Homo sapiens: one gene and its partners. The protein of the gene in region 1 interacts with the protein of each later gene in a biochemical or structural test. Each region holds a gene or a part of one and is shown in the gene's direction. Other genes may lie near its edges. The genes, in order: CSTF3, CSTF2 and FIP1L1.

Region 1 (3,755 bases):
CCTTGATTGAACTGCTTCAAAGTACAAAGAGCTGTGTTTAAGTGTGTGCTAAAATTTATGAACTCTAAAGATCAAGATAAAAAAGTCCAGAAGAGAACAAGTTATCAGCAAAAGCAAAAAAGACTGTCATCAGCATTCTCACCTGCAGTAGTTTAAGCCATAAAACTGGGAATACTACTCTATTACTGTACTACTTGAGATAAAAGGACCAAAACTTCTCTAATCAGCCAAAATATTTATTTACCTATCTGGGTGAAACAGATTTGCTGATTAACACAGTTGAGCACCTAACCCCACCCACTCTGTGATGAAAATACTCAAAGAAAAGAGAAATCTAATAGTATTTAATCTTGGTCTTTGCACATGCTATTTCTCCTGCCTGGAATAACTCTTCCCTTTCTTCAGCAAATAGCTCAGATTCTCCTAGAAAAAGTTATCTTTTTCCCGGAAATCTTTTGCAATTCCCCAAGTCTAAGTCTTTTGCTCTTCCAAAATGCTGTAGCACCCAGTACTTTCTTCATTTTAGCACTTAACCATAATATCTTACAATGACCTTCCACTTCGTTGTCTTATTTTCCCCATAAGATTGTAAGCTCTATGAGGGCAGGGGCAGACCTGTCTTGTCACAGTGGTAGCCCCCACGCCTAGCACAATATCTGCAATATATTAGGTTGATGGTGTGACTGAATGTTTATATGTAGTCCAAATTTGCATATCTTTTTTGCCGCTCAGATTGTTCTGGTAGCTATACAGGGAAAGGAAAGCCTTAAGTTTTTCTTCAGTGGATACATCCTATTCAGGTAGACCTATCGGGTATGTGTATATTTCTGTATTCATCTCATGACTTTTACAGAATTTTATTAAATTCACAAAATTTATATGTAAATGTATGAAAATCCATATAGATTCAATTTACACAGGTATATTTACAATGCATTTTATCCATGTTTGCTTCACACTTCTGTTATTTTTGAAAGTAACAGAAAAATTAATAAGAAACTATAGGGATGAATTTGCAAAGTTGGTTAAAAATTGGTCAAAAATTCAGACTGATGCTCTAAAAAAATAGTATTAATTCTATATTTTTCTGTTTCTCTTCAGATTAAAGCTAAAAATTATGACAAGGTTGAAAAGGTGAGTCCTCAAATACTTTGAATTTTATATTGAAGTTTAACTTAAAACCTAGTATGTATAAGACAGATGTAGTAAAATGTTAATAATAATTGAATCTAGATAGTGATTTTTTACAAGTTAATTGTACTTATTCAGCTTTTTTATATGCTTGAAAATGTTCATCATAAAAGTTTTGGAAAAGGAAAAGAAAATAATTATACTCCCCTGACAAATCATGAGAAGCATTTTAATTATCTAAACTGAAAATGGGGAAATTATTTGCTTTTTATTTATAAGAGATAAATTCATAAAGGGAGCTGAATTTGTGTTTTTAATGTTCCATTTCATCTATGTCCATGTGAAATTTATTTAACTGGATTCTGATAATATATTCTTGTATTTAAAGCTATTTCAGAGATGCCTTATGAAGGTTTTGCACATTGATTTATGGAAGTGTTATCTTTCATATGTCCGAGAAACCAAGGGTAAACTACCAAGTTACAAGTAAGTGAAACCAGGATCTTAAGAATGCAAGTCATCTCCAGGCACACAGTTAATCCCACATAAACTCACACCTTCTGTTAGCCCCAAGTGGGAAGAATTATCAGGATTTGAAAAGTCAGGATTTCCTAAGAATTAGTAACCTTGAAAAAAGTGCTTCAGAGAAAGTCACTGGCATGAGTCTTACTCTGGAGAATTGAATCGCCCAAGCCCTTTCTATACTGAAACACTGTATAATTGCAACACCAAACCACTTTGTTGACAGACTTGTCAAATTTTTTCAAAAACCATCTTCATACTTGTGCTAGTACCACTTTTGTGAGGTCACAATGCAATGTGCTACTTAAGTGATCTAAGGGGTCTCTGACATTTGTAGTGATATAAGGGATCTCTGACAATTGTATTGTGAAGTTGCCATCCCCACTCCGAATTATACCCACCTCCCCATCTTTGCCAAATCTAAATAATGGACCTTCTTCTGAGGTGCCATTTTTCTATGTAACTAACAGGCAAGTTATGTCTGTTACTAAAATTCTGTCTTTATTGTCTTTTCCTGATTATACTTTTTGTTATGATTTTTGTGTTTTGAGACAGAGTTTCAGCTCTGTCGTACAGGCTGGAGTGCAGTGGCACAATCACGGGTTCACTGTAGCCTCAACCTCTTGGGCTCAAGTGATCCTCCCACCTCAGCCTTCCAAGTAGATGGGACTACAGGCAAGAGCCACCACACCTGGCTGATTTTTTTTCTATTTTTTTGTAGAGATGGGGTCTCCTTATGTTTGAGACTCCAAACGTAGCAGGGTCTCAAGCATAAGTTAATGTCCCTAGGCTGGTCTCAAACTACTGAGCTCAAGCAATTCTCCTGCCTCAGCCTCCCAAAATGCTGGAATTACAGGCATAAACCACCACACCTGGTCTGTTTATTGTCTTATATTGAAGTGGAAGTTCTTTTTCCCTAATGTACCCTTTACATTTTAACATAAGTTGCATTTTAATAAAACTATACTTTCCAGATTTCTACATTTTACTTTAGAGCTAAAGATCTTAATGTCTCATTAATGAGAGAACCACAAATTTCCACATTTGAATCTGCTATGTATAGAATTATGCAACTTAAATGATATAAAGATAAGTAAGACATGAGCCTTATTTTTGATAAGCTCACAAGCAGTAGATAAAGGAAACAATTTATGATCTTGACAAGCTTAACATCAAAGAACGACTTTATATACTTAAAAGATGTCTTTAATTTATGTTTATAGAGAATGTTCAAGTGTTGTTCTGATCCTGTGATCAGAAGCTACATTTTAGTTATATATACATTTATTATTTATTTATTTATAGAGACGAGGTCTCACTGTGCTGCCCAGGCTTGTCTCCGACTCCTGGCCTCAGATGATCCTCCTGCCTCAGCCTCCCAAAGCATTGGGATTCCAGGAATGAACCACCACGTCTATCTTCAAATAATAATTTATTTTTAATTTTTTTTAGAGACAGGGTCTTGCTCTGTCACCCAGGCTGAAGTGTAATGGTGCATTCATAACTCACTGTAACCTTGAAATCCTGGGCTTAAGCACTCCTCCCACCTCAGCCTTCCGAGTAGCTAGGATTACAGGTGCACGCCACCATGCCCAGCTAATTTTTTTAATTTTTATTTTTTTAGAGACTGGGTTTTGCTATGTTGCACAGGCAGGTCTTGAATTCCTGGTCTCAAGTGATCCTTCTGCCTCGGCCTCCCAAAGCAGTGGGATTACAGGCATGAGCCACCATGTCTGGCCTAATTGTAGATAAATTTTAATAACAAAAAAATTTAAAAACCACGTCTTTCATGTTCATTTCAGAGAAAAAATGGCTCAAGCATATGACTTTGCACTGGATAAAATTGGAATGGAAATTATGTCCTATCAGGTAGAGTTAAAACTTTTTAATGTATGCACTTAAATGTAAGAATACCAAGAAAGATATTAACATTTCATTTTATTTCTTAGATTTGGGTGGATTACATCAATTTCCTAAAAGGCGTGTAAGTATTTGTATAGTTTTTTTTTACATCTACAGTTGATTTAGCTAAAATATAATTTTTAGTTCTTTGAGAAATCTCCATACTATTTTCCATAGAGTTGTTCTTTGGGTAGATATCC
Region 2 (3,755 bases), on another chromosome or scaffold:
AGCAATAGAAAACTAATACAATGAGGACACAGCAAGTGCTTAATAAATGTTAGCTTTTATTATTACTAACTCATTGGGATCAGCTACACAGTTGTAAGAAGGCTAAAGTAAAAATTATTTATGCAAGGCTGGCAGTGCAACATAGCATTCAGATCCAGGGTCCATTTGGTCTAATATGGCTGATATTAAGTGTTTCTCAAGGGGAGAGACATTATTGGCATTCAGTGGGGGGAGGGGTTCATCCTGTAGAACTGCCTTGGACATGGCAGTCCATTTATCATCTCTGGCTTCTCTTCCCCTAGCAGTAGTCATTGCAACAACTGAAAATGCCACTGTACATTTCCAAAAATGCTCCTCCACAAGGGTTGAGAACTTTGAGAACTACTTTAAGGGAAATTTCATAAGAAAGCATGCGTGTCTTAAATGCTGCCATAAAGCTACCTCAATAACTACAATGCTACTCAAATTACCTGACCCTAAGAATCGCCAGTGGCACTTGTTTAAATATAACGATTCCCAAGTTCTTTCCCTGGAGTCCCATTCCATAGGGCTGGGGTGGAGCCCCAGGAATCTATACTCTTACTCAAAGACCCCAGGTTAATCTTTTGTTTATGTAAGTTTGCCAAACACTGAGTTAGAAATATACTCAGCCGTACATGCATTTAGCAAAAGTTCACCACAACGGAACAATGACACACCAAAACTCTTTGAAACTGTGCCTTCTACAGAGCTGTAAATCTCCTTTTGGACCATTCCATTACACAAGGTGTCCTCTTGGTCACACAGTGATTGCAAATGGGACTCTAGAGTCATGGAAATGGGTATACTCTTCTCAAACTTTCCATCTTTACCAGAATTACTTCTTAAAGTGATATGCTTCATGGTGTAAACTAGCACTTATTAATTTTTTCTAAATATTTATCATATTTCATATACTTTTATTTTGGAGATGGAGTTTCGCTCTTGTTGCCCAGGCTGGAGCGCAATGGCAGATCTCGGATCACCGCAACATCCATCTCCCGGGTTCAAGCGATTCTCTGGCCTCAGCCTCCTGAGCAGCTGGGATTACAGGCATGCGCCACCACGCCCGGCTAATTTTGTATTTTTAGTAGAAAAGGGGTTCTCCATGTTGGCCAGGCTGGTCTCCAACTCCCGACCTCAGGTGATGCGCCCGCCTCGGCCTCCCAAAGTGTTGGCATTACAGGCATGAGCCACCGCGCCCGGCCCATATACTTTTAATACATGTGGAATTAATAAAAACGTCCATGCCTCCAATTCCGTGGCTATTTTACCGTCTTCCTTTTTCGGACAAGTCCCTCAAAGGTAGCGCTCTTGGCTCCTTCCTTTGCTTATCCCCTAACCCTGTCCTCCTGAGGTGCCCCCTGGATTTCCTCCAACCCCGGCAGGGTCTGCCTTTCCGGGATGATACAACGACCTGCCCTGCATGCCATATCCCAGGCGCGTGGGCACCAAAGTGTGGAAAAACCGATGAATGACGTTTTCTGTTTCCGATACTCTGCCTGCCAGAATCCCCTGCCGCACCGCCCCACCACGAAGCACATGGAACCCACGGACTACACGAGGACAGAGGTCTGTTCTCCCTTTACCTCTCCCATTTCTTTAACTATGCTTCTCTCGGCTGGCATGCCCTTTCCTCATCTCACTCCACACACGAACAGGTTTAGCAAATAATATGCACGCTGCTGGGACGGGCCCAAGCATTTCCCTCCCTTGATAGGGCGGAACTAAAATGCAAGCCCCACAGTTGTCAGCAAAGGACTTCCCTGTTACCATGGTAAAGCCGCTGCGCCTTTATTGTGGTTGAGGAGTACTTGCATCAACCTAAGAGAAAATTAATAAGAAGGAAGTCTGCAGGCTGAAACCCTTCAAATTAGCCTGGACTCGCCTGCATCTGGCTCGGAACAGAGTTAATCTCAGGAGTGAGAATATAGCCCTCCGGTGGACGCAACTCGCGCCTGCGGCTAACAGAATGTCTCCAGGGGAGGGGCTCTGCGTCCGTTCCGCCCAGGCCCTTCCGGCTCACGCGCCGTACGGAAGCGTGCTCAGCGCTGGGCTTGTGCTCCGTACGGAAGTGTGCTTTGGCGCACCGGAAGCCGACTCAACAGAGCTATGGCGGGTTTGACTGTGAGAGACCCAGCGGTGGATCGTTCTCTACGTTCTGTGTTCGGTGAGAGGAATTCGTTGTAGTCAAGCTTCGGGGAGGGACTCCCCTCTGCACCTTCTATCTCATGAATCGCTACCGGAGCCGCTGACGGTTCGGACGTGCAGTTCTCCCTGCTTATCCTGTAGGGCGTCCAACCTGGTGGACTCATGAGCAAAGAGATATTCCCATTCTGCCGAGGTCTCGTAGGCTTTCCGCAATATCAGTGGGGAAGTTAGACTAGCGTTCAGCTTCTGTGCGTTTCTCCTTTCATGAGCTTCAATTATTCTCTAGAGGAGAAGGCTCACGGTAACAGCTCCTCACTGTCCCGTACTACTTCTCATCCTCTGCCCCAGAATACAGACTATATGCTGAGGGTATAGATCCTAGTGTCCACTTACTGTCCTCTCCTAAGGACTTTCATCCTTTGCTTTTTATCTGTAACATTTTAGTGCATCAATAGTGGTAGCGGCCACCTGGTGTCCTGAGATGGCTTGTAAGTGAATGAATGAATGAACTATTAAGATCTCCTCAGAGGAATTTTAAAAAGGATCGAAACGATTCTGAATTATCTTTTTGGCTGAAATAAGTTGTTTTTAAAAATACGTGTGATTATTTTAGAGTACCATTTGAAAGGGACATGACAAAGTAGTTCAGAATACTTTTTAAACATCTTTCACTACATTCATCGTCATTCTCCCTTAAATGTTGTATGTGTGGAAATACATAGGAACCTGTTTTAAAAATTATATTAAATAACATTGATATTTTTTGTAGTCACTGATGAGACTTGCAGATCTTTAGGTAAATACCAGTGCCAAAGTATTTATTTGCACCAAAGTTAAGGAAAATCTAACACGTGTCAGATCAGTCTGAGAACTAACATTTGAGAGTACCTACACATTTTGTATTTAGTTTCAGTGGTATATTTCCTTTGTTAAGAGGTCTGAAGAAATACAATGGAATTGGGATTGGAGAACACTATTTTGAGTCTTATATTTGATGATATAAGTTTACTTTCTCACTAAAGATCTATGTTATAAACTCAGAATTTTAATGTTACCTATTTTCTTCCTTAGTGGGGAACATTCCTTATGAAGCTACTGAAGAGCAGTTGAAGGACATCTTTTCTGAGGTTGGACCTGTTGTTAGTTTCAGGTGAGATCCCCTTTTCCTTCATGGTGGGAGCTTCTTAAAAATCACCACAGATTTGGCTCTTAGTAATAATGGCAGGTTTTCTTTACTGGTGACTTTTCACATACATTTTGTTCTTGTAACAGCTTTATTGAGATATAATTGATACACTATACAATTGACATTTATTCTTACCTAAAATATGTTTTTTTCGTTAAAAATGTTTTTTAGGCAGGGCATAGTGACTCAAGCCTGTAATCCCAGCACTTTGGGAGGCCGAGGCAGGCGGATCACCTGGGGTCAGGAGTTCGAGACCAGCCTGACCAATGTGGTGAAACCTTGTCTCTACTAAAAATACAAAAATTAGCCGCCGTGGTGGCCCATGCCTGTAGTCCCAGCTACTCAGGAGGCTGAGACAGGAGAATTGCTTGAACCCGGGAGGCAGAGATAGCAGTGAGCC
Region 3 (3,755 bases), on another chromosome or scaffold:
AGCTTCTCTACACAGGCTTCTCTACAAAGGCTTGTGGCTTAAAAAAGAAAAATGATGTTTTAAAAGGCAGAATGGGGAATAGAAAGTAGCTAGGTGGAAAGCGAAGAAGCTCATTTATTGAACACTTGTGGCTAAGCCTTTTATAAAAATACTGTTTTATTCTATACGGTCCTGTAAGAGAACAGTTTAGAGAAAATCCTTGATTTTTGTACATTTGTAGAAAAATCATGTACATCATATGTAGATACCGCTAAGTCACTTTTTCTGAATTTGGATTGTTAAAATGTAAACATCGTGAAGGCAGGAACCGTAATTGTCCAGCTCCTCATACTTTTTCCTCAGCCTAGAACCATACTTGACATGGTTTGGTGCTCAGTAAGCATTACATGAATTAATCAGCCTATGAAATGATTATTTCAAGTTGGTGACGATAGTACTGCTTGACAGTAGTAATATTTGGTCCACTTTGTAATTTTTGCATTTCTAGCTGTGGAGCTACAGTTATTTGATACAATTAAACATTTTATTGAATTTACATTTTTCTTTTTTAAGTAGAAAAGAAAAGTGACAGTGCAAATGTAACTAAACCTAAGTCTTAAATGTAGTACATCAGAGACAAAAGATGGAAGTAATTATTATTAGACCCAAAGCAGTGAATCTGAAGTCCAGATGGCTGAAGTTCTGAGAGAAAAGAACCAAATATATAACATGAATATAATGTGAGAAATATATCATTATAAACATCTGTGACTTGAGGTCTTACTGATATCTTTTTTTTTTTTTGAGATAGAGTCTCGCTCTTTTGCCCAGGCTGGAGTGCAGTGGCGCGATCTCACTGCAAGCTCCGCCTCCTGGGTTCACGCCATTCTCATGCCTCAGCCTCCTGAGTAGCTGGGATTACAGGCGCCCACCCCCATGCCTGGCTAGTTTTTTCTATTTTTTAGTGGAGACGGGGTTTCATGGTGTTAGCCAGGATGGTCTTGATCTCCTGACCTCGTGATCCACCCGCCTCGGCCTCCCAAAGTGCTGGGATTACAGGCGTGAGCCGCCGTGCCCGGCCGTCTTACTGATATGTTTTTGTTCAGTGGGAGTTGGTCCTTCTTTGCCCATTCCCGTTTTCTTCTAACTTCCCTAGTAACAGAAAAGTCTCTTTTAATTAGTATATTTGATAATACTACTCATATATAAGAATCCATTATATAAAGAAGTAAAGAACTGTCTGTAACCCCGTATTACAGAAAATGTATACAAGGCTCATTTATACAAGTAAAAATGCAATGAATTATTCAAATAATTGTATACAAGTCTTAGGTGTTTTGGCCAAGATTACACAACTAGCAATTGACAAAACATTTGAATGTGGGTTGGTCCAACTTCAGATATTTTTTTCTTTATCACTGTGTATTATATTACATCTAAAAAGGTGCAGCTTAATATTTTTTCAAATATATACATTCATGTAACTACAGCCAGATCAAGATATGAAACATAATTGGCATCCTAGAAGTTTCTCTCATTTTGCCTCTTGGTCATTAACCACCCACCACCGGCAAACACTGTTCTGCTTTCATGCTAGACTTATTTTTGAATTTCTTGTCAATAAATTTCTGTTATGGACTGAGTACTCCATGAATAGTTGAAAAAGGATTTATTAACAATATCAAATGCAAGAAGAACTGAAAGGCCACTAGATTTGACAACAAGTTGGAGGAATTTTACTTATGCTTAAGAGTGCTGTATATTTAATAACTGGGAGGCAAGGAAATGAAGACAAGGGGTGTAAACTATTTTTCCCTTCTTAGCCTTATTTCTTGTGAAGTTTGTTACAGTAGAATGTTGAGTTATTGGCAAAAAGGTTTTTGAAATGGAAACAAGTCAGGCTTTTTTTTTTTACTGTTTTTGCCTTTTATTGAGCAAGTGACTTTAAAAATCAGTTTAAAATGTTTTTTAAAATATGTGTTAGCTGGGCACGGTGGCTCACTCTTGTAATCTCAGCATTTTGGGAAGCCAAGGTGGGAGGATTGCTTGAGCTCTGGAGTTCGAGACCAGCCTGGACAACATGGTATGAGATCTCATCTATACAAAATTTAAAAAATAAAGATAGAAATAAAATGTGTGTCACACTATCCATTTACTATGTGATTGTATAATTTGTTTGTACAAATGGAATATATTACTGTTTTGTTTAAGCTTTTCAGGATAATTTCTGTTTTTTTTTGTTTGTTTGTTTTTAGGAGTTATGGTACAGCACCTGTAAATCTTAACATCAAGACAGGGGGAAGAGTTTATGGAACTACAGGTAAAATTTGTATTTTCTGTTGCATCAATAGGGAAATAAGGCACATATCTTAAATAGGTCTTAATAGCTTTTTTTTTTAGTCGGGGACAGAGTCTGGCTCTGTCACTCAGGCTGGAGTACAGTGGCGCAATCTTAGTTCACTGCAACCTCCGTCTCCTGGGCTCAAACCATCCTCCCACTTCACCTTCTCAAGTAGCTGGGACTGCGGGCGTGCACCACCATGCTTGGCCAATTTTTGTATTTTTATGTAGAGACCAGGTCTCACCATGTTGTTCAGGCTGCTCTTGAACTTTCGAGCTTAAGTGATCTACCTGCCTTGGCCTCCCAGAGTGTTGGGATTCCATGTGTGAGCCACTGCGCCCGGCCAAGGTGATAATAGCTCTTTTTAAAGAGTAATTTTTGACCGTACATCACAGAGACTGGTAAAGTTTTTCTGGCAAGAGTCCAGTAGCACGTATTTTAGGCTCTGCTTTGTTTGGAACCCTTGCCAGGTTTTTTGCCAGGAATAGTAAAAAGATGTTTGTTTTCTGTTTGTGTGTGTATATGTGCCAGGAATAGTAAAAAGGTGTTTATATTTTCTGTTTGTCTATGGTATCGCCTGGCTTCTTGCAAGTATAGCTCCTTCATTTTGTAATTTTATAAAACAGGGACAAAAGTCAAAGGAGTAGACCTTGATGCACCTGGAAGCATTAATGGAGTTCCACTCTTAGAGGTAGATTTGGATTCTTTTGAAGATAAACCATGGCGTAAACCTGGTAAGATTATTGTGGATTATATTAATTTCAATATTTTCAGTGTGAAGTCATCAGAAAATTTTTTTGAACATCAATTTAGAATTTTATTTTTTCATTATAATTTTAATTGTCTTAAGCAAATGATGAGTAATAATGACTTGGGATTATTAAATCTTACTGGTGGCCTTGTATTACTTAAAATGTAGACTTATTGTTTATTATAATGGCGTTTGTAAAGGGAATAATTTGATCAAAAATGATATAGTCTTTTTGCCACCATAAATGATAGAGTGATAACTGATAGAACTCTAAATTTATATTTTTATAGTTTAGTATATTTTTGATGCTGCATAAAAATAGAGCTGAAATATTTGTACACTAAAGTTGTGTTTTATCTTTAGGTGCTGATCTTTCTGATTATTTTAATTATGGGTTTAATGAAGATACCTGGAAAGCTTACTGTGAAAAACAAAAGAGGATACGAATGGGACTTGAAGTTATACCAGTAACCTCTACTACAAATAAAATTACGGTAATTAATAAATACTCCGGAATACCCTTGGCTTGTCTACCGTCCCACTTTTACTCCCCAAATAAATCGCTTCCCTATAAAAGTGGTTAAATGCTATATGATAGTTTAAAAATTCCATTTTGTTTACCATGTTTGTTTTTCCCTTCCCTCCCTTTTAGAGTTTCGTATTTAATGATTATCTGATGTTCTT

What was found.
Region 2: the proteins of CSTF3 (region 1) and CSTF2 form a complex in vitro, tested with the Homo sapiens proteins (one study listed by BioGRID).
Region 3: the proteins of CSTF3 (region 1) and FIP1L1 form a complex in vitro, tested with the Homo sapiens proteins (one study listed by BioGRID).

What each region holds. Positions count from the first base shown.
Region 1 is NC_000011.10:33,105,765-33,109,519, reverse strand, and holds part of CSTF3 (cleavage stimulation factor subunit 3), read left to right. Parts: intron 1-1,101; coding exon 1,102-1,134; intron 1,135-1,519; coding exon 1,520-1,617; intron 1,618-3,455; coding exon 3,456-3,522; intron 3,523-3,602; coding exon 3,603-3,637; intron 3,638-3,755. UniProt on the Homo sapiens protein: One of the multiple factors required for polyadenylation and 3'-end cleavage of mammalian pre-mRNAs.
Region 2 is NC_000023.11:100,818,287-100,822,041, forward strand, and holds the start of CSTF2 (cleavage stimulation factor subunit 2), read left to right. Parts: upstream 1-2,104; 5' UTR 2,105-2,130; coding exon 2,131-2,188; intron 2,189-3,240; coding exon 3,241-3,319; intron 3,320-3,755. UniProt on the Homo sapiens protein: One of the multiple factors required for polyadenylation and 3'-end cleavage of mammalian pre-mRNAs. This subunit is directly involved in the binding to pre-mRNAs.
Region 3 is NC_000004.12:53,387,575-53,391,329, forward strand, and holds part of FIP1L1 (pre-mRNA 3'-end-processing factor FIP1), read left to right. Parts: intron 1-2,234; coding exon 2,235-2,299; intron 2,300-2,946; coding exon 2,947-3,054; intron 3,055-3,434; coding exon 3,435-3,565; intron 3,566-3,755.